2 separate regions of the Homo sapiens genome follow, and region 2 is linked to region 1. The links come from fine-mapping of genetic effects on gene expression. Tissue or cell type: whole blood. Region 1 holds a variant in brackets; the other region holds the start of a gene. All regions are shown on one strand. Distances are between the middles of the regions.

The links. PIP is the estimated chance that this variant, and not a neighbour inherited with it, causes the effect.
Region 2: CD300E starts here. The variant in region 1 is fine-mapped to the expression of CD300E in whole blood (TOPMed, PIP above 0.99).

The regions. Positions count from the first base shown.
Region 1 is chr17:74,597,592-74,601,754 of GRCh38, forward strand. LOC101928343 (a long non-coding RNA gene) reads left to right here and starts at 2,249. Exons shown (of 4, transcript NR_158152.1): 1 at 2,249-2,357. The variant A/G (reference allele first, on the strand shown) is at 2,100.
Region 2 is chr17:74,621,712-74,625,874 of GRCh38, forward strand. CD300E (CD300e molecule) reads right to left here and starts at 2,027. Exons shown (of 4, transcript NM_181449.3): 1 at 1,871-2,027. The coding sequence starts at 1,910. LOC101928343 (a long non-coding RNA gene) reads left to right here. Exons shown (of 4, transcript NR_158152.1): 4 at 3,816-4,163.

The DNA.
Region 1 (4,163 bases):
ACCCATTATTCAATTACCTCCCACTGGGTCCCTCCTGGTGGGGATTATGGGAGCTACAATTCAAATGAGATTTGGGTGGGGACACAGCCAAACCATATCAGCCTGATCTACGGCACAATTTTTTCTCCAGATAGAGGGAATGGGGATCCCTTCAAAAGCTGCTAAGGAGGGTACCAGAAGCCCGCCAAAGGCATGGTCTAAAATGTTCACAGCACACTATGCATCATGGCCCTGAACTTGAAACTAGCTGAATGCCCATAAATAATACATTTGAAAAAATCATAAAAACAACAAGAAAAGTGTTTCAAATTGTGCACTTTAAATATGTGCAGTTTATTTTATCCCAATTATACCTTAATAAAACTGGGAAGGAAGGAAGGAAGGAAGGAAGGAAGGAAGGAAGGAAGGAAGGAAGGAAGGAAAGAAGGAAGAAAGAAAGTCTGTCTATGGTCCCTGAAGTCCTGCCCCCTCCCATGCGTTCTTGGCTCTAGGCAGCAGCACCAGGGCTCACCAAGACACTCCAAAATCCCAAGAGAAGGTGCAGCTTCAAACATAAACAGAAGGCCCGGATCACACCTGTAATCCCAGCACTTTGGGAGGCCAAGGCAGGCAGATCACTTGAGTCCAGGAGTTCAAGACCAGCCTGGCCAACATGGCAAAACCCCGTCTCTACTAAACATACAAAAATTAGTCTGGTGTGGTGGCACATGCCTGTAGTCCCAGCTACTCGGGAGGCTGAGGCAGGAGAATTGCTTGAACCCAGGAGGCGGAAGTTACAGTGAGCCAAGATCACACCACTGCACTCCAGCCTGGGTGATAGAGCAAGACTCTGTCTCAAAAATAAATAAATAAACAAACATAAACAGATATTGCTCAGGGGCCTCCTCCACTTCCTCCCCAAGAACTGACCCACCACGCCCTCCTCTGCTCCCACTGGCAAAGCTTTCTGCTGCTCTGCCTCTAATCCCCCACCCCTGCAAAGCCCTTTGCAGGTGAAGATATGATGGGCTTTGTCTTAGGAAGGCTAAACTGACAGGGGGTTAAGGAGGGAACACAGCAGGGAGTCGGGAAGCCCCAGGGCCATGGACCAGGCACAGTAATAGACCAATCTTAGAGTGAAGAGGACACGGAATTTAATTTTGAGCACATCTGAGCTGTTAACAAAGTGGGTATCTCTATGAAACAACCAATAGGCACTGGAAATGACAGCCAAGCACTGAGGCAGGAAATCAGGTGACAAACTGCTTTTGACAGTCTTGTGCATAGAGGTGACTTTAGAGTGCAGGTGAGGACACTCCCTGGAGAGAAGGGCTCCAGAGGAGAGCATCAGGACAGGCTCCTGCAGATGCAGGGTGGTGGGGGCAGGAATGGATTAGGCAGTGAGAGCAAGGAGGGGCTTCAGCAAAGAAGGAGGAGAGGAAGAGGGAGCAGGTGACAGAGGAGGGAGGGGACCATCTAAAGGAAGAGGGGGGAGTCTGGGAAAGTCACTTTGGGGATCAACAGAGCAAGCAGTTTCGGTGCAGTGAGATTGGCCAAAAGCCAACTGCAGGGAAAATGTGCAGAGATGGGGAGGAAGGAACCAGGGCAAAGTGGGGCTAGAGAAAAAAGGCAACTTCCCCTTCCCCAACTACCTACCACAAGCCTCCAGTTTGGAGTGACTCAGGACCCCAGAGGAAGCTTTCCTAGAGAGGAGCACTGAGTCAGGCTCCAGAAGAGATAACAGCCCAGGGCTGGAAGGGTGGTTTGAGATGCCCTGCCGTGGGGCTGCCTGGAAAGAGCCTGGGGCACAGGCTGTTTCTCCAGCGAGGCTGGATGGGAGCACTGTGCTGTGTTCTTCCCAAAGTGCAAAGCCAGCGCGCCTCGATCAATCCCTTCCCTCCACGCTCTGAGACAAAGCCAGGGCGCCTCCATCAATCCCTTCCCTCTACGCTCTGAGGCAAAGCCAGCGTGCCTCCATCAATCCCTTCCGTCCACGCTCTGAGCCTTACTGTACTCCCTGCCCTGTGTTGTTGGCAGATGCTCCTAAATCACAGACAGCTGCAGATGGAGCCCAGGCCAGGCCTGGACCATTTACTTCCCCAGTTCATTGAAGACGTATC[A/G]TCACACCACACACACTCCAAAAAGACAGCACCACGTTTCTCTTAATTCATGAATTTAGGAAGTAACTAAAGAAAAAAAAAGGAAGCAGTTGAGAAAACAAACAAAAAAAATGATTTAGACAAGTAGGAAGCAGTTTGCCTCTGGGTTCAGTTACAAGTTGCTGGAGGGCAGCTGGTATTAACTCATCACCAGGGAGAGAGCACAGACAGGCAGGGGCATGTAGTGCTCACTGGTCCTGTTCCTTCTCATCCTTCCAGGTAAGTGGGCCTGGGGATTAAGGAACTGGAACCCAAAAGGCTGGGCAGGAAACAGAGAGGGTCTGTGCTGGAGGGAAGGAGACAAGCTGGGGAAAATGCACTCATCCATGCACTTACATATAAGAAAGCAGGAAGGAAGGAAAAGAGAAAAAAAGGGAGGAATGTTTTGTTATCTGACAGTTACTAGGTTAGGTGTTGGGGAAAGAAACAAAAAACATAAATGGTGTCAGGTTTCTAGGATTCTGATTCTTCTCAACCCTGGCAGATGATAGATAGATAGATAGATAGATAGATAGATAGATAGATAGATAGATAATTGATAGACAGACAGATAGATGATAGATGATAGATAGATGATAGATAGATAGATAGATAGATAGATAGATAGATAGATAGATAGATAGATAGATGAGAGAGAAGTAAATGGATGGATGATAGACGAGAGACAGATAGATGCATGGACAGGTGGACAGATAGATGAAAGAACAGATAAATAGGTAGATACATACATACTTATATACTTGCACATATACACATATACCCAAACTTAAATGCATGAATCCCTGAGGAACTTTAAAAGAGCACAAATACTCAGGTTCCAGCTCAGACCCACGCAGTCGTGGCGGGGTTCAGACATCTGGCTAGTTTAGAAGCCTCCACAGCTTGTCATGAGTTGTAGCTAAAATGGAGCAGCTCAGAGTTACAGGGAGGAAGACAGGCAATAAGGCAAGGATGTCATCGCTCTCTGGAATGTAAGTCAACCCCACACATCAGCCTGCTTGAGCTTCTGCTCTGGACGAGCCAAAGACCAGACCATTGTTCAAGGTTGTAAGTACAACAACTGAGACAGATACAAAGTGGTCTGGTGGCACCAGGGCGGGGCTGAACCAACCCTTCAGGGAGGGGAATAAGGGCTTAAGTCCATCAAGCAAGGAAGAGACAACTTCCTGGGCAAAGGGAGCAACTTGTGCAAAGGTATGGAGACAAAAATAGCATGGTGCTTAGGCAAAGAAAAACAACTGTGCACTGAGTGTGTGCACAGGTGTGTGAGTGTTGGGGGTGTGTGTGTGTGTGGGGGTGTGGGTGTGTTTGGTTCCATGAAACTTTATCACATGTGCAGACTCACAGGAGAGGGTTTTTAGGGGTGTGGGGTGCAGTGCCAGTGGGCGGAGGAGTTGGGGGAAGCCAGGATGTCTACCTGTTCAGCTCTGGGATTTTAAAATAAATCGGTGGCTGGCCGGGCGCGGTGGCTCATACCTGTAATCCCAGCACTTTGGGAGGCCGAGGAGGGCAGATCACCTGAGGTCGGGAGTTCAAGATCAGCCTGACCAACATGGAGAAACCCTGTCTCTACTAAAAATACAAAATTAGTCGGGCGTGGTGGCGCATGCCTGTAATCCCAGCTACTCGGGAGGCTGAGGCAGGAGGATTGCTTGAACCCAGAAGGCGGAGGTTGCGGTGAGCCGAGATCGCACCATTGCACTCCAGCCTGGGCAACAAGAGCAAAACTCCGTCTCCAAATAAATACATAAATACATAAATAAATAAAATAAACTGGTGGCTGCAGTGAGAGCCAGGGATTGGTGGGGAAGTGGGTGTCACCTCAGGGCAAAGGAGGGAAGGTTTCCAAAATGAGAGGGTGTTCAGTGGTCGCTAGGATGGCGCATGAACAGACCACTGTGTTGGGCAGTTGGAGCCCTCAGGAGAACTTTGTCAGAGGGGTGACAACAAAAGAAATACTGCCGGGGAATTAAGGAACAAATGGATGTGAGAATTTGACAATTTGGGGGCTGAGGATAAAGGCTC
Region 2 (4,163 bases), 24 kb after region 1:
TCTTGACACCTCCATGGCCAATGGAAAGAGCTCTGTGGAGGACACAGATCTGGACTTCATTTCCAGCTTGTCTACTTAGTTCTTATGTCATCAGATCTCCCTTCATCATCTTATTTATAAAGTGGAGTCAATGCTATTTGCCCTGCCTGGGTCACAAAACTGCTCAGAGGGTTAAATTCTATCATCTATTTGGAAGTGTTTATAGGTTATAAAAATGTGTAATAAATAGAATTCTAGTTTTGCTCTTTTTAAATTTTTTACTTTTCTTTTTTTGTAGAAATGGGGTCTTGCTATGTTGCCCAGGCTGATCTCAAACTCCTGGGCTGAAGCATTCCTCCTGCTTTGACCTCCCAAAGCACTGGGATTACAGGTGTGAGCCACCTCACTCAACCAACGTTTGCTTATTTTGTATTTGAATTTGCTTCCTTCCTCTTTGTCATTTCCCCTCCCTGCTAGAATTGCCCTTTCCATCTCTCTTTCCCAGTTAAGATTTTCAGAGGGACCTGCGCAGGTCACATTGCGAGTCTGAGGATGGGGAATGAGATAGGGGTGGAAAGAGAGATGGAAAGGGCAAAGAAAAAGGAAGCAAATTCAAATACAAAATGAGCAAACATTGGTTGAGTGCAGTGGCTCATGCCTGTAATCCCAGTGCTTTGGGAGGTCAAGAGAGGAGGATTGCTTGAGCCCACGAGTTTGGGTCCATGTCACCTACCTGGTCTTCTTCCTTTAAATCGCTGTCATTTTCACTCACCCTTCTAGAAAGAATCTTGTCATTACATTGGGCAATTTCTATGTTTTGTGAGGGAACTCAACCATAAAATTCATTCTGCAAACATGAAGAATGTCCTCTAATTTTTAGCCTAAATTTATTTCCCCAGAGACAAATGTGTTTTCCTGCAGTTTTGTATTTTGAATGTCTATTAATAAGAGTTTCTCTTCTGAAGTCCAACCTTTGCAGGACAGTTTCATTTACTTGTTTACACCACACCTTGTTCCGGGAAGGATTTAAGGTAGATGTTGAGGATGGCATTTTTTTTTTTCAGACAGGATCTCAACTCTATCACCCAGGCCAGACTGCTGCAGTGGTGCAATCTCGGCTCACTGCAACCTCCGCCTCCCAAGTTCAAGCGATCCTCCTGCCTCAGCCTCCCTAGTAGCTGGGACTACAGGCATGCATCACCACGCCCAGCTAATTTTTGTATTTTTAGTAGAGACAGGGTTTCACCATGTTGGCCAGGCTGGTCTCAAACTCCTGACCTCAGGTGATCCACCCACCTTGGCCTCCCAAAGTGATGGGATTACAGGCGTGAGCCACCACGCCCAGCCCATTAATTATTTCTCACAAACCATTCCAACCCCTTTACACTAAGCTTCGTCAAAACAGAACTATTGTTAATTCTTGAACTCTCCATGGTCTTTAATGTCCTCACACTTGCACATAAGCTATTCCTTTCCCACTCAGCCAACTCATTCATCCTGCAGGATGGACTTCCAATGAAGCCTCAGTGACATCTCCCACCCTTCCAAGAGCAAAGTGAGGGGTTCCTGTTGCATACTCTCATCACCACATGAATGAGTCTCTACAACAGTAATTTCCACATTGTATTGTAGTTAGTTGACTCCCTCAGTTCAGAAGTTACTCTTAATTACAGCACCCAGAACAGTCCTGGCACATATCTGGTGCTCAGTAAGTGTTTGTAGGATCCGTGGATGAATGATTGAATGTATAGAAGGATGCACAGGTGAATGAACGGATGTATCTTTCCCTTTTCTGTGGACACTTCACCTCTGGTTTGAACCCAGGACAGCTCTTCTACCTACTGTCCTGCCCCCTGCAAAACCAAGTCCCCAAAGCCACAGCCCCACTCACCTGAGAGGCAGAGAAGGAGTAGAGCTGGGAGCAGCCACATGTTCCTGTCTCCTTGGCTTCCGTCCTCAGCAAATCTAGGTCCCAGCTGGAATCCAAGTATATGTAACGGAGCCTGGGTCATCCACTTTCTACTTGTCCAAGTTTCCTTTGTGTTCTCACTCATCTATTTCCTCTTTTGCCTTTTAAAGAATGCTTCCTAATTTTAAGCCTTACTTAGCAGAAGAGAAAGGGTGGCAAGAGACGTTTCTGAGAATGGACCAAGCACAAACAGGAAAATCTGTTGGCCTTCATTTAATGTGAACGTAATGTTTGAGTCACCCCCTGAGATTTCATGACTCGGAATTTCATGAAAGTCAGTCCCAGTTTACGAAACCTCTCCAACAGAGAAAACTCTGTTCCCTGCCTCTTTCACTCTTCTTCCTATCTGGGATTACTTCATCGATCTAAGGAGCTTCCCTTCTCTATGGCTGCCTACTTTTGAATCATAAAACACCCTCTACTTAAGGAGCTGTGGTGATCACTCCCCATGTCTTTCTCAACCGTTATCTCCATGCGGATGACTTCACACCTCTTCCTCTAACCCAATATCCCAATATCTCTCCTGGGCTCCAGATCCTACTTTCTAACTTCCTATAGGGAAGCTCCACCTGGTTATACACTGTTAACCTAGTTCAGTATATGGGTCATGGTCAACAGCATAGATTCTGAAGTCACACAAACTCAAATCTCATCTCCATCATTTATTAATCATCTGACCTTGGGCATGTTGCCAAATCACTCTCCTCCTCAGTCTCCTCATCTGTAAAATAGAGTACTCATGACAATTCTTTCTCAAAGGGTTGCCACAGGAAATAAATGAGTTAATGTAAGTAAAGTGCTTGATACAGTGCCTGGAACATAGTAACTGCCCAGTTAATATTAAATACCTTTAGAATAGTCCTGGACCATTGAAATAGCTTCTCATCTGGTCCCTCCACTAGCTATACATTCTCTCTAATCCAACTTGCACATCAGAAGATACTCTTCTCTAAGACATAGCTATCTGAAAATATAATTTCTTTCCTTCTCTTTCCCCAGAGATACCCATCTTTGATACCCACAGCCTCTAATCTTTACTATCTTTTAGAACTCTACTGGATCATCTGATATTTCAAACTTTTGTTGTAAGAGCACAACTTCTTATCTTTTCTGTACCACCATATCTGATGAAGTATTATATAGCCAGGCATGGTGGCACGTGCCTGTAATCCCAGCTACTTGGGAGGCCAAGGCAGGAGAATCACTTGAACCCAGGAGGTGGAGGTTGCAAAGCAATGAGCCAAGATCACACCATTGCACTCCAGCCTGGCAACAGAGAGAGACTCCATCTAAAAAAAAAAGAAAGAAAGATGAAAGAAAGAAAGAAAAAGAAAGAAAGAAAGATAGATAGATTATATATAGAATAGAGCCCTGGATGGAACAATAAAACACCAGGACCCTGGTCCCATGTGTGACATGAGCCACACACTTGAGGGATCCAGAATGAGCAGAGCTGACAGTAGCCACAACATTGTGTCTTAGTCCATTTTCTTCTACTATAACAGAATACTACAGGCTAGCTAATTTATAAAGAACAAAAGTTGGCAGGTGCAGTGGCTCATGCCTGTAATCCTAGCACTTTGGGAGGCCGAGGCACGTAGATCACTTGAGGTCAGGAGTTTCAGACCAGCCTGGCCAACATAGCAAAACCCTGTCTCTAACAAAAATACAGAAATTAGCCCTGCATGGTGGTATGAGCCTGTAGTCCCAGCTACTCAGGAGGCTGAGGTGGGAGAATTGCTTGAACCCAGGAGACGAAAGTTGCAGTGAGCCAAGATCACGCCACTGCATTTCAGCCTGGGCGACAGAGAGAAACTCTGTCTCAAATAATAATAATAAAAAAGAACAAATTTGTTCACCTTCCTAGCTTTCTGAAGATGAGAAGTCCAAGAGCATCGTAGTGGCATCTGACAAGCGTCATTCCATGGCAGAAGACAAGACAGCAGGCAAGCCTCCTAGACAGAGAGAAAAAGGGGACTGAACTCAGCCTCTCAGGAAACCACTCTCACAATAACTAACCCACTCCGGAGATAACAGCATTAATCCACTCGGAGGACTGAGCTCTCATGGCCTAATCACCTCTTAAAGACCTCACATCCCAATGCCATTACATTGACAGTTAAGTTTCAACACGAGTTTCTGAGGGAACATTCAAACCATAGCAACCCTTGTGCCATTTATTCAGCAGAGACAACAGTTGCAGGCTTCAGTTCTT